Homo sapiens: one gene and its partners. The protein of the gene in region 3 interacts with the protein of the main gene of each other region in a biochemical or structural test. Each region holds a gene or a part of one and is shown on either strand. Other genes may lie near its edges.

Region 1 (3,552 bases), on a different chromosome or scaffold from region 3:
GCCTAGAACAAATCTAATCATCATGAATTCTAAATTAGTAGAGTTTGGATAAGAGAACTTTTTTACCAAATTATCTAAACTGTTGTTTTAAACTCTGTACAGAGAGCTCTGGATTTCATATGTATTTCAACATTGTCAGTTTCAGTTAGAATTTTCAGGGTAGTATTCTTTTTTAAAAAATAAGGATTTGAAGGATGGGGATTATTTGAAAAATCAGTTGTATGTAAAATGCATTGTTTTTATTACTTTCTTTTCTAACAAATTAAATGAAACATCAGACTAAATTTGAGGTACATTTTAAAATAGTAAAAACATATAACATTATAGACATTTACTTGCCAAGATCAAATGTCATGATTCAATACTTATTTTCATTGTGAGCTAATGCCTTCACCTGTCTGTCTTAAGGTCAATTAATAAACAACCCACTTGCGAAGACCTAGGGATATACGTTGGTATGAAGGGCAGTGCTTCCAATAAGATTTCCCTTGAAATCTCGTTGTGAGGACAAAATACATGCATAAAAAGAACAGAAACATCAAGTTGATAATAATAACAAAAAGTTAAATAGTACTTACCATGGGCCAGACATAGGTCTGAGTGCTTTACAAACTTTAACTCATAGGTCTGAGTGCTTTACAAACATTAACTCATTAAAAGTTTGCAATAACATGGTAAGTACAATTATTATCATCCCATTTTATAGATGAAGGAATTGAGGCAAAAGTTAAATGTTGTATCTGGGGTCACACAGCTGGTAAGTGGAGAAGGCAGGATTCCAACTCAGACTGGCTATGGAGGCCACTTGTGTAACCAGCCACCACACTGCTTTGTGTATGTGGTGGCATTCACAGTAAAGGCAAAAGAGTCTAGCAAAGAAATGACCATAGTGGTCAGGGAAGGTTTTGCGGGAAGTGGGGCCTGAAACAGGCTTTTTAGAAAACAAAGGATTTAATCAATGGAGAAGACCGCATTTCAGACCTTCCCATCTCTATTGTGAGTACTTCAGAAGGACAATCTTTTGTTTTGGTTTCTCTTTTAGCACAATAAATATTCGAAGAATGGCAGAACATTGGAGGAACAAAAGTATTAGGCAAGAATGTAAATGGTTTCAGGAGTGGACATTGAGAAAACCTATTTAACTAAAGTGATGCCATCACACAGAGAAGTAGCAAGGGATCATGTCAGGAAAGTGAGTTAGGACCAGATTACAAATGCTCTGAGTACCAGGCTGTAGCCTCTGTGGTAGTGCTTCTGACACCCTAATCTTCACAGAAACCACTGGGGTCTTGTTAAATGCACATGCAGATTCAGTAGGTCTGAGGTGGGCCCAAGAGTCTGCATTTGCAGTAAGTTTGGGTGATGCTGATGTTGCTGGTCCCCAGACCACAGTTTGAGTACCAAGACTCTAGACAACAGCAAAAAACCATTTTGTGGCTGGGTTGAGGGAAAGGGATAGGGTAGTGATGGAAAGTTGTCTATGGCACCTCCCCTGAGTTGCAGCCAACGATTTGAAAGATATATAGACCTACAATATTTTATTGAATTTGTTTATAGAACCTTTTTCTATATGCCCCGTCCCTCCTTTCGGATGCAAAGCTGTCTTGCCTGAAGATATGTTTTAAACCACGTTTTTCCTCTCTTTCATACAGAGCAAGGCTAAAGAGCTACCTCTTTCTGCTGTACGCTTTATGGAAGAATTGGGTGAGTGTGCCTTTGGAAAAATCTATAAAGGCCATCTCTATCTCCCAGGCATGGACCATGCTCAGCTGGTTGCTATCAAGACCTTGAAAGACTATAACAACCCCCAGCAATGGACGGAATTTCAACAAGAAGCCTCCCTAATGGCAGAACTGCACCACCCCAATATTGTCTGCCTTCTAGGTGCCGTCACTCAGGAACAACCTGTGTGCATGCTTTTTGAGTATATTAATCAGGGGGATCTCCATGAGTTCCTCATCATGAGATCCCCACACTCTGATGTTGGCTGCAGCAGTGATGAAGATGGGACTGTGAAATCCAGCCTGGACCACGGAGATTTTCTGCACATTGCAATTCAGATTGCAGCTGGCATGGAATACCTGTCTAGTCACTTCTTTGTCCACAAGGACCTTGCAGCTCGCAATATTTTAATCGGAGAGCAACTTCATGTAAAGATTTCAGACTTGGGGCTTTCCAGAGAAATTTACTCCGCTGATTACTACAGGGTCCAGAGTAAGTCCTTGCTGCCCATTCGCTGGATGCCCCCTGAAGCCATCATGTATGGCAAATTCTCTTCTGATTCAGATATCTGGTCCTTTGGGGTTGTCTTGTGGGAGATTTTCAGTTTTGGACTCCAGCCATATTATGGATTCAGTAACCAGGAAGTGATTGAGATGGTGAGAAAACGGCAGCTCTTACCATGCTCTGAAGACTGCCCACCCAGAATGTACAGCCTCATGACAGAGTGCTGGAATGAGATTCCTTCTAGGAGACCAAGATTTAAAGATATTCACGTCCGGCTTCGGTCCTGGGAGGGACTCTCAAGTCACACAAGCTCTACTACTCCTTCAGGGGGAAATGCCACCACACAGACAACCTCCCTCAGTGCCAGCCCAGTGAGTAATCTCAGTAACCCCAGATATCCTAATTACATGTTCCCGAGCCAGGGTATTACACCACAGGGCCAGATTGCTGGTTTCATTGGCCCGCCAATACCTCAGAACCAGCGATTCATTCCCATCAATGGATACCCAATACCTCCTGGATATGCAGCGTTTCCAGCTGCCCACTACCAGCCAACAGGTCCTCCCAGAGTGATTCAGCACTGCCCACCTCCCAAGAGTCGGTCCCCAAGCAGTGCCAGTGGGTCGACTAGCACTGGCCATGTGACTAGCTTGCCCTCATCAGGATCCAATCAGGAAGCAAATATTCCTTTACTACCACACATGTCAATTCCAAATCATCCTGGTGGAATGGGTATCACCGTTTTTGGCAACAAATCTCAAAAACCCTACAAAATTGACTCAAAGCAAGCATCTTTACTAGGAGACGCCAATATTCATGGACACACCGAATCTATGATTTCTGCAGAACTGTAAAATGCACAACTTTTGTAAATGTGGTATACAGGACAAACTAGACGGCCGTAGAAAAGATTTATATTCAAATGTTTTTATTAAAGTAAGGTTCTCATTTAGCAGACATCGCAACAAGTACCTTCTGTGAAGTTTCACTGTGTCTTACCAAGCAGGACAGACACTCGGCCAGAAAAAAAAAAAAAAAAAAAAAACAAGCAAACAAAAACATTGTGGGATGTGCACTCCATTGGAGTGCATGACATGGCATTGGGATTGGAACATGTGGTTTCGAGCACTGAAAGCTGCAAACCAGTGAAGAGGAAAAGAACCTTGTGATTAAATATAAAACCAAAAGTCAAATGGTGCTTTGTGTTTTAGCCTTCAGTCACCATGACTGGTCTCTCCCCCAGATGTATATATACCATAGCATTTGTCTACCTGCTGTCTTTTCTTCAGGACAGATGTTCAGGAATTATATTGATTGAATTTAGAC
Region 2 (4,628 bases), on a different chromosome or scaffold from region 3:
AGGAACTGGGGCAGGGAGAGGTTTGGGGAAGGACCTCCTGGGGACAGGGAGAGTGTGGGGTGAAGGTTTTGAGGTGAGAGCTGTCTTTAGGGTGATGGTGAAGAGACCCCCGGCCTGGAGTAGCAGAAGAAAATGAAGCTGGAGAATGGAATGTGCTGGGCCGACATGGAAGCCGGGGGTGGCAGACAGTGAGGATGGAGTTATCCATGGCTCTTCCCTGGCTCCTGTACCTGCCCAGGAGGCTGAAGGCCCCTGAGCTGCTGGTCTCATACACCTCCACGTAGTCAAACTTGCACTCGTCCTGAGCCTCCAGGCTGAAGTTGTGGAACTGTAGTTCTATGCTGTGTCCGGCAGGCACCGAGATATGCCAGGTGCAGAGCTGGGGGAGGGCATAGGTGGAGCAATTCATGGCCCCTTCTCCTGTCTCATCCCGGGCACCCAGAAGGGTCTTCTTCCCCCACTGCTGGCTGGGGGGATGGGGTGGTGCTTTCATCATTGGTGGTTCTTAAGGACCTTTAATTTACCTGGTTTCAGAGGTGAGTTGACCCAGTGTGGGAACATCTGGGTACACAGCAGGCACTTAATAATATTCCCCCATCCCCCGTCTGCTTGATCTCTGACCTTCCCAAGTAGAAGGTAGTGTCTACCATGCCATTCCCATTACACTAACTTGGGGATCAGGTGCTTCCGTGTGTGCCCCTCCCGTTCTGCATGGAGCACTGTGCTTACCAGTTGGTGAGGGTACTGCTGCAGGTAGCTGGGAGTAGAGAAAGTGCCCTGGAGGCCAGTCAGATTCCCCCCACACCCTGTAGAGAGGTGGAAGGGCTCATGAGTTTGCTAGGATCTGTGCCTCCATCCAATAGGGCTGGCGGTGATTACAGAGCGAGAGTTTTGGCCATGCCCATGGGAAACAAGTTCTGGGCCAAAGAATGACTGAGCAGGAAATGCTGACGGAGGGCCCGGTTTGAGGCTGGACCAGAGCTGGGGAGCCCAGCTTGAACCCAGATCAGACGCCTGAAGAGAGGACCCCCATGCCTGGCCCGTACCCGAGAACTTGGCACTGCAATTGGTCTCATCACTGCCGTCAGCACAGTTGGCAAAACCATCACACACTGAGTCAGGTAGCAGGCAGATGAGCTGGTCACAGCGGAACTCATCATGGGCACAGCTCCCTGGATGTGGGCACCAGGAGTCAGGGAGGCCCGGAGTCTCCACCCCTTTGACAGGACTGGGAGTGGGTGGAGGGGAAGAAAGTGGACACTCAACAGGCAGGTGGGAACACACTCACCGCGCCCAGGGGCCATAGCCTGGTACCAGGCATGGAAACCAAATCCTTCCACACTGCTGTCAGAGACGAAGACCACCAGGAGGTGGCTGGCATTGGTGTTGAGCGTGGGGGGAGGCACCCTTCCACAAACCCTGCAAGAAGCCAGGTTGGGGGTGAGGGAGGCTCCAAGAGCAGGGTCAGCCAGAGAGGAGCTTGCCTGGGCCTTGCAGTCCTATTTTCTCAACCCCCAAACTGGTGACCATGTGGTCAAAAAGGCTCCTCTGATGTCCCAGGGAGCTCTGACCTTCCTAGCACCTGCACATTTATCCTTGTAGCATCTACTCATGGGGAGATAGGCAGGAGATCCATGTTACAGACTAGGAAACAGGTGAGAGAGGGGAAGTGATCTTCCTCACGGCACACAGCAAGGTGGTGGCAGAGCTGGGCCCAGAGGTCTAGTCTCTCAATTTCTTCCTCGGTTAGCCCTTCTCCCTGCCACTCCCTGATTCTGCTCTTTAGATAGTGGTTCAGGACACGGTGGGATGTCCTGGGGACAGAGGGACCTACCTGAGGAGGGGGCCTTCAGGCTCAGGGGAGAGTTCCAAGCGATCAAAAAGGCAAGAGGCCACACTCTCTATGCTGAGGGCTTCGATCTTGAGCTGTATTGCATGGTCTGTGGCCACCTGGATATGCCACACGCAGTGGGTGTTGGGGGGGTAAGGGTCTGGGTAGTTAGGGCTGCTGAAGAAGCCCCTTGGGCCAGAGAGGAGGCCTCCACAGGCTGCAGAGATGGAGGTTAGAGTTCAGAGGTCAAAAGGAGTGAGGTCCTTTATTCTCAAGGTGCCTCTTCCTCACCCTCCCCTCAACCCCACCCCGTCATCTTGGGCCCTTCTCCCGGAAGATCTGCCCCCAGTACTCACTGGACTGTGGGGAGGGGCTCACGCCTGACTCCTGCTGCCCTTTAGGGGTCCCAGCTGCCTGAGAGGTGGTGATGGTGGGGGTGGTGGTGGTCGTGGTAAGGCCTCCGGCAGGCAGTGGGCTATGGGACGCCCCAGATGGGGGTGCAGCCTGCAGCTCTGGAGGCGAGAAGATGGAGGGTGGCGTTCAGAGGAGCTGGGTCCTGGGAGGCTGGGAGAGCGGCTCATGGAGTTTCATTCCAAAGCCCTCGTTTCAAGCTGTCCCCGGGTACTTACGGGCCAGGATGATGGCCACCAGCAGCCCAAGCAGCAGGAGGAGCAGGCTGGAGAGCAGGAGGACACAGAGCCAGGAGAAGCGGCAGTCTGGCCGTAGCCCTCGAGGACGCCGACCTGCGGGTTGGCAGGTGGGGTTTTGAAAGCCCCTTCTGTTGGGTATTCCTCATGCTGTCCTTGGCTCCTGGGCCTCTCTGTCCTCCCCCAGGTCACCCCCTGGGATGGTTACCATGCCAGGGAGCTGGGACGCTGTAGCTGGCATCCTCTGGGAAAACTGGGGGAGGGCAGGGTGGCCCAGACTCAGGCTCGAAGGCAGGATTGCAGAACTCGGTCTGGAAGGGGGAGATACTTGAGGGCTGAGGGCAGCAGTGACCACTGGTGCTGGGTCTTAGGAGCACGATTCTATGTGGTCCTTACCTTGCTCGATTCTGTTGCCTCCATGCAGAGGATGACATCTGAGAAGTCCTTCATGGCACAAGGCTCTGCATGGCTTTCTGGAGTCCCTGTGACAGCCCAAGACCCCCAAGGGCCCACTCGCTGACCACAAACTCCCTGTCAGAGGGGCAGCCTCTACTACCCGAGGGAAAAGGCTGCCAGGCTAGACCAGTTCTTGGGCTGTCCTTGGTAGAGTGGTTTGGCCTATGGGCTACTCTGTCTCTGTGTGGGGGAAGGGATGGCAGCCAGGAGGAATTCACAAAGGCACGAAATGGTCCCTTAATCCAACTCAGCTGAGGATGCTGAGGTCAAGCCCCTGGCACAGGGTGGCAGTTCTTAAAGGCACAGGCGGTGGCTGAGAACACCCAGCAGAGGAAACTAGGTGCTCTGTGCGGGGATGTGACGAGGGGAGCTCTCCACCCCATCACCCAAGGCACTGAGTGAGCACTTAGGGGGTCGCTGGGAGGGGAGAGAAGTTGCAGGCAGAAGGGAGCCTTAGGTGGTCTGAGAAAGAAGCAGGGTGTAGGGGGTGGACAAAGCCAGCTGCCCACCTTTCCTCCCCACCAGGGTGACAGGGGTATTGGCCAGGCCGGGTCTTTGGAAGGCCCCTGGTAGATCACCGGTGTGACCAGGACAAGAGAGAAGAACATGGCATGAGCAGGGGGACTGGCTGCTCATTCCTGGGACCCCTAAGCCCGCAGGAGAAAGGACAGGGAAGGGGGAGAAGGTGCCCAGGTCTTGGGGAGGGTTGGGGTGTGGAGTCTAGCCACTGGGGCTGTTGCACAGTAGGAAACCTACACCCTGCAAACAAGATTACTTCATGCCTGTTTCTCCATGGGCGAAGTCCTCTTGGAAAATCCCAGCCTAGCCCTGCTGTCCTCAGGGAGAAAGGAAAGGGATTGGTAATCTGTTTTGTGTTAGCCATGCTTAGGCTGAGAGTTTGGCAGGGAGGGAAGTGGGGAGAGAGCCTCATATTTCTGGCTACTATTTGTAGAATGTCTGGGCAAGAGGGCTACATGCAGTTTCTCTCCTTTCATAACTATGAGGTAGCGTCACCATTTTACAAATGCTGGTGCTGGCCTCTGAGAGGTTATGTCACTTTCCCAAGGTCACACAGCTGGTAAGATACAGAGATGAGAGTTGAGCCTAGGAATGGATAGATCTTAGGCTCACGTTTTCTATGATGTACCTCTTTCACCCCACATTGGGGCTGAGGCATGCTGGGGGAGCAGAGGGATCAGAGTGACATGGGGGCAGAGTGAGGAACCCCTTGGGGATGGAAGCAAAGAGGACAGGCTGCCCTCCTTGCACTCAGGAAAGGAGATGCCTCCACCCACAAGTTTTTCTCCATTCGTCCCTGGAGGGTCTTAGTTTGCTTTTGTCTAGGGGGTCAAGCTGTTTCCTAGACCCTTGGAAGTCTAATGGTACATGGTCTTTAGGGAAGAGACTTTTTGGGAGCTGTAGGGACAGGTGCTCTTGGAGAGGATCAGACAGTCCCTGACCACAAAGTACTTCTCATTCTGGGTGGATCAAGACAGAGCAGGATTCCTGCCACACTGTGTGTTAAGAGCCTGGCCACAGGGGCAGCTTCCTGGACAGAGTGGCCCTGCGCTGAGCTTTGAGAATGATGAGCTGGGAGAGCCACGCCCTTGGGTCTGCTCCTCTGAAGCTGCTCGTTCGCTGTGATCATTGAGAGAGAGGTTGCTGTGCCGGGGTCTGGCCAGGCACTGGGCTCA
Region 3 (4,061 bases):
TTTTATTTTAAATAACTTTATCTTACCAGACACAAAGTGACCAGACTGGTCCCATTTCAGGCCAGGCAATTATTTGTTGTGGAGGCTGTCTTGTGCATTTTAGGGTATTTAGGAGCATCGCTGGCTTCTACTCGCTAGTTTCCGGTAGCATTCCTCACCCGCTCCAGATGTGAAAACTAAAAATGTCTCCAAATATCTATGGCCAAATGTACCCTGTTGGTCAAAATCATCCCTGGTTGGGAACCACTGCCTTTCCAAAGGGACATAAAATATATCCTTGATTCCTCTGAATAATGTTAATTGATCTGTCTTCTCTCTCCTTTCTTCTATTTCTAAGTTCCTTTGATTTTTCCTTTCCCCTTTTCTTATTTATTCTCCTGCTTCTCCATGTTTCTCCCTGTCACTTTCAGACCTTCTCTCCCATTTGATCCCTCCCCAACCTCCACACAGTTTCACAGATTCACTTACTGAGTTCAGCAGGGCTGCTCACAGCCACGTTTCATAAATCTTTCTCCCACTGACTGGAGTCAGTCTTATGCTGGCCTGATCTATCTATCTGAGACAGGATCTCTCAACACTTTCAACTTTATATCCAGTATTGAACCCTCAAATAACCTCTTCCACAATCCAGACTTTTTGTCTTTCTTAGCCATAGTGGGACATGATGCCTGAAATGTCCTATCTGTGTTCTATGGAAATGCATTGTGGCCCATAGACAAGTGAGGAAGGATAATGGATGTATACATGTATGTCTTTTTCTCCCTCTGTAATCTTTGGGGTATTTTTTATTTGAATGGATATAGACAAGTTCTATAAAAGTGTGATGGAGAACAGGTACATTTGGTCTTAAATTGTATATGGGCACCTTAAAAACCCACTTACAAAAAGTTTAAAAGGTATATCTTAAAGACTTACATTGAGAATATTAAATAACTCTCAAACTCAACAGTAAACAACAAAACAACAACAACAAAAAACAAAACAAACAAAACCTAACAGTTCAATAAGAAAGTGGGGAAAAAACATTAACAGACATTTTACCAAAGAGGATATATAGGCAACAAATGAACTCCTGAAAATATATTCAGCATCTTTTCCTTATTAGGGAACTAGAAATTGAAACCATAATGAGATATCACTCTACATCTATCAAAGTGGCTAGAATAAAAAATAGTGACAAGACGAAATGCTAGTGAGGGTGCCAAGAAACCAGATCCCTCATATGTTGCCAGTGGAAATTGTAAGGTGGTACAGCCACAGTGGAAAAAGAGTATTGCAGTTTTTTACGAAATGAAACATGCATTTACCATGTAACACAGCAGTTTCTTGGTAATTTATCTCAGAGAAATGAAAACTGATGTTTCCACAAAAACCTATACATGAATTTATATAGCAGTTCTATTTGTAGTAACCCAAGGCTGGTAACAACTCGGATGTCCTTCAGCTGATGAATGGTTAAACAAACTGGGGTACATTGGGACCATGGAATACTACTCAGCAATAGGAAGAAACAGACTATTGATGCACATGACTTGGATGGATCTTCAGGAAATTATGCTAAATAAAAAAGCCAATCTCAGAAGTTTACATATTGTAGAATTCCATTTATGCAACATTTTTAAGCTAGAAAAATGATAGAGCTAGAGAACAGATAAGGAGTTGCCGGGGATTAAGGAGGTGGGGAAGGAGGAAGGTGGCTAGGCCATGACTATAAAGAATGACCCACTGTTGTATTGGGACTGTATATTAATAGTGTATATTAGTGTGTATTAATGGTGTATATTGATGGTGATCGTATGCATCTACACATGTGATAGAATTGAACAGAAATCAATACACACGCATACACTCTGTATTATTTCTTATAGCTGCATATGGATCTATAATTATTTCAATAAAAAAGTTACAAACAAAAGTGTGCCTTTATTATCCTGGAAGTACGATAGGATCTTTCAAGGATTTCTGTTTGGTTCTACCCTGCCTTTAGCGGAGTGCAAATACCAGTTCCAGGCCTGGGGAGAATGTGACCTGAACACAGCCCTGAAGACCAGAACTGGAAGTCTGAAGCGAGCCCTGCACAATGCCGAATGCCAGAAGACTGTCACCATCTCCAAGCCCTGTGGCAAACTGACCAAGCCCAAACCTCAAGGTAAGTCCTTGCCATTATACCACAATTTTAATGGATTGATGGACTCAGGTAAGATCTGGAAAACCCACATTTTCCAGAAGGAAATATTAGGTGAATTACCTTAAGAAAGTGACTGAAAAACTCCCCTACACTGAGAGTCACAAAAATACTTTAAAAATACTTTGAAGCAGGCAGCCTGTGAGTGCAAATTGAAGTCCTCTGCATAGATGAGGGGATTGGTACAGTCTCCTAACCCAAATAAATAACATAGCAAAAGAAACCAGCAAAGACAGTTGTATGATGACCATATATTCCACACTCTTAATTGGAACTGTATCCTGACAAGAAAAACAAACTCAGAATGTTTATGACGGAGACAATTTTAAATCAAACTTCTCCCAGATTATCTGAAATATAGTTTTCACAAAATCAGGAAAATTATTTTACATTTTCCCTTTATTCACTGCATAACTTAATGGGTTCTGCATTTGTTTTCAGAGCCTTTATATTTTTTGAGTTCAATTTGGTTACCAACTACATTCATCACAGAATTTTTAAATGACAGAGATCTGTATCTCCCAGAAAGTCAGGCTCTGCTCTCTTGCTGGAGAAGGTAAAAACAATCATTATGGCCATGAATTCATACATACAAGGATCCCAACTGAGGGAAATAAACTCTTTCATCATGGATGTTATTGTCTGAATTGTGTTTTCCCAAATTCATATGCTGAAGTTTTAACCCCCTCACAATGTCACTGTATTGGAGACAGGGTCTTTAAAGAGGTAATTGAGATAAAATGCAGTCACAAGGGTAGGCCCTAATCCAGTGCAGCTGGTGTGTTTATAAGAAGGGAGATTAGGACACAGAAATACATAGAGAGAAGACTGTGTGAAGACAGAGGGAGAAGAATGCCATCTACAAGCCATAGGGAGAACCTTCAGAAGAAATCAGCCCTACAGATGCCTTGATCTTAGGCTTGTAGCTTCCAGAACTGCAAGACAATAAATAAATAAATTTCTGTTGTTTAAGCCACCAACTCTGTGGTACTTTGTTATAGGAGCTATAGCCAACTAATACAATGGGACTCAATGAACTCTAAATTCAAATACCTTCTTGGCCTCTACTCATATATTTTAACTCTAAGGTGGTCCTGAAAATTCATACTGCCAGAGAAATTGTAAGGAGAGATTCAGAAAAATGACCATGTAAGAAATGCTCATAATAAATAAAAGTAGAAAAAAAAAATCTGCAGAAGGTGATGGAGATTGGCTGGTTTCCTGCTGGTGGCCAGAAAGGACTTTATTTTTCACAGGCCTGGCTTTTTGGCCACTGCTGGAGTTGTCCATAGAAATAGTTATCTCCAACTTCAGGATGGCCAGGTACAGGCTGGACCTGCAGGTGGTGAGTCTAGGGTTCAGGCTGCCCTTTCCAGATCATGGAAATCTCTGCCTGTTGTCATATGGTTTTTGGAAGGCATGAAGCAGGGCTGGAGTGACTGCAGTGAGTACTTATGCAGACTTCCCAAATGTCATTTGTCCAGAGACAACCACATAAATCTAAGCAAAATCAGTGCCCTATCTACCAAGTGAAACATTTCCAAAAATGGCAAAACTCAGAGTTACTGTAGTCAAAATAATTTATTTTTAGTCCAGCTGTAGAACCAAAATATTCAGCATAAATACAGAATTGAAAGGAAAAGAAATTAAAGAAGCTTCCACATTCTAGCACAGTGATGCTCAACCTGGGCTTCACATTAGAATATTCTGTGGGAACTTGCAAAACTCCCAGTGCCCAAGTATAGCACAGACTAACCCAATCAGCATCAGTAGTTTAAAAATTGTGAATGCATCTCAGAAGGTTTCATGATGCAGCCAAAATTGAGAACTACTGCTCTAGTATGGAATCCATTGACAAGAGACCACACACACATGC

What was found. Proteins that work in one complex are often made in the same cells at the same time.
Region 1: the proteins of PTN (region 3) and ROR1 form a complex in vitro, tested with the Homo sapiens proteins (one large-scale study listed by BioGRID).
Region 2: the proteins of PTN (region 3) and MFRP form a complex in vitro, tested with the Homo sapiens proteins (one large-scale study listed by BioGRID).

The regions. Positions count from the first base shown.
Region 1 is NC_000001.11:64,175,776-64,179,327, forward strand, and holds part of ROR1 (inactive tyrosine-protein kinase transmembrane receptor ROR1 isoform 1 precursor), read left to right. Parts: intron 1-1,652; coding exon 1,653-3,080; 3' UTR 3,081-3,552. UniProt on the Homo sapiens protein: Has very low kinase activity in vitro and is unlikely to function as a tyrosine kinase in vivo. Receptor for ligand WNT5A which activate downstream NFkB signaling pathway and may result in the inhibition of WNT3A-mediated signaling.
Region 2 is NC_000011.10:119,343,586-119,348,213, forward strand, and holds the start of MFRP (membrane frizzled-related protein), read right to left. Parts: upstream 3,121-4,628; 5' UTR 2,929-3,120; coding exon 2,875-2,928; intron 2,790-2,874; coding exon 2,687-2,789; intron 2,575-2,686; coding exon 2,461-2,574; intron 2,344-2,460; coding exon 2,188-2,343; intron 2,049-2,187; coding exon 1,835-2,048; intron 1,420-1,834; coding exon 1,289-1,419; intron 1,173-1,288; coding exon 1,047-1,172; intron 807-1,046; coding exon 730-806; intron 380-729; coding exon 231-379; intron 1-230. UniProt on the Homo sapiens protein: May play a role in eye development.
Region 3 is NC_000007.14:137,249,318-137,253,378, reverse strand, and holds part of PTN (pleiotrophin isoform 1 precursor), read left to right. Parts: intron 1-1,987; coding exon 1,988-2,149; intron 2,150-4,061.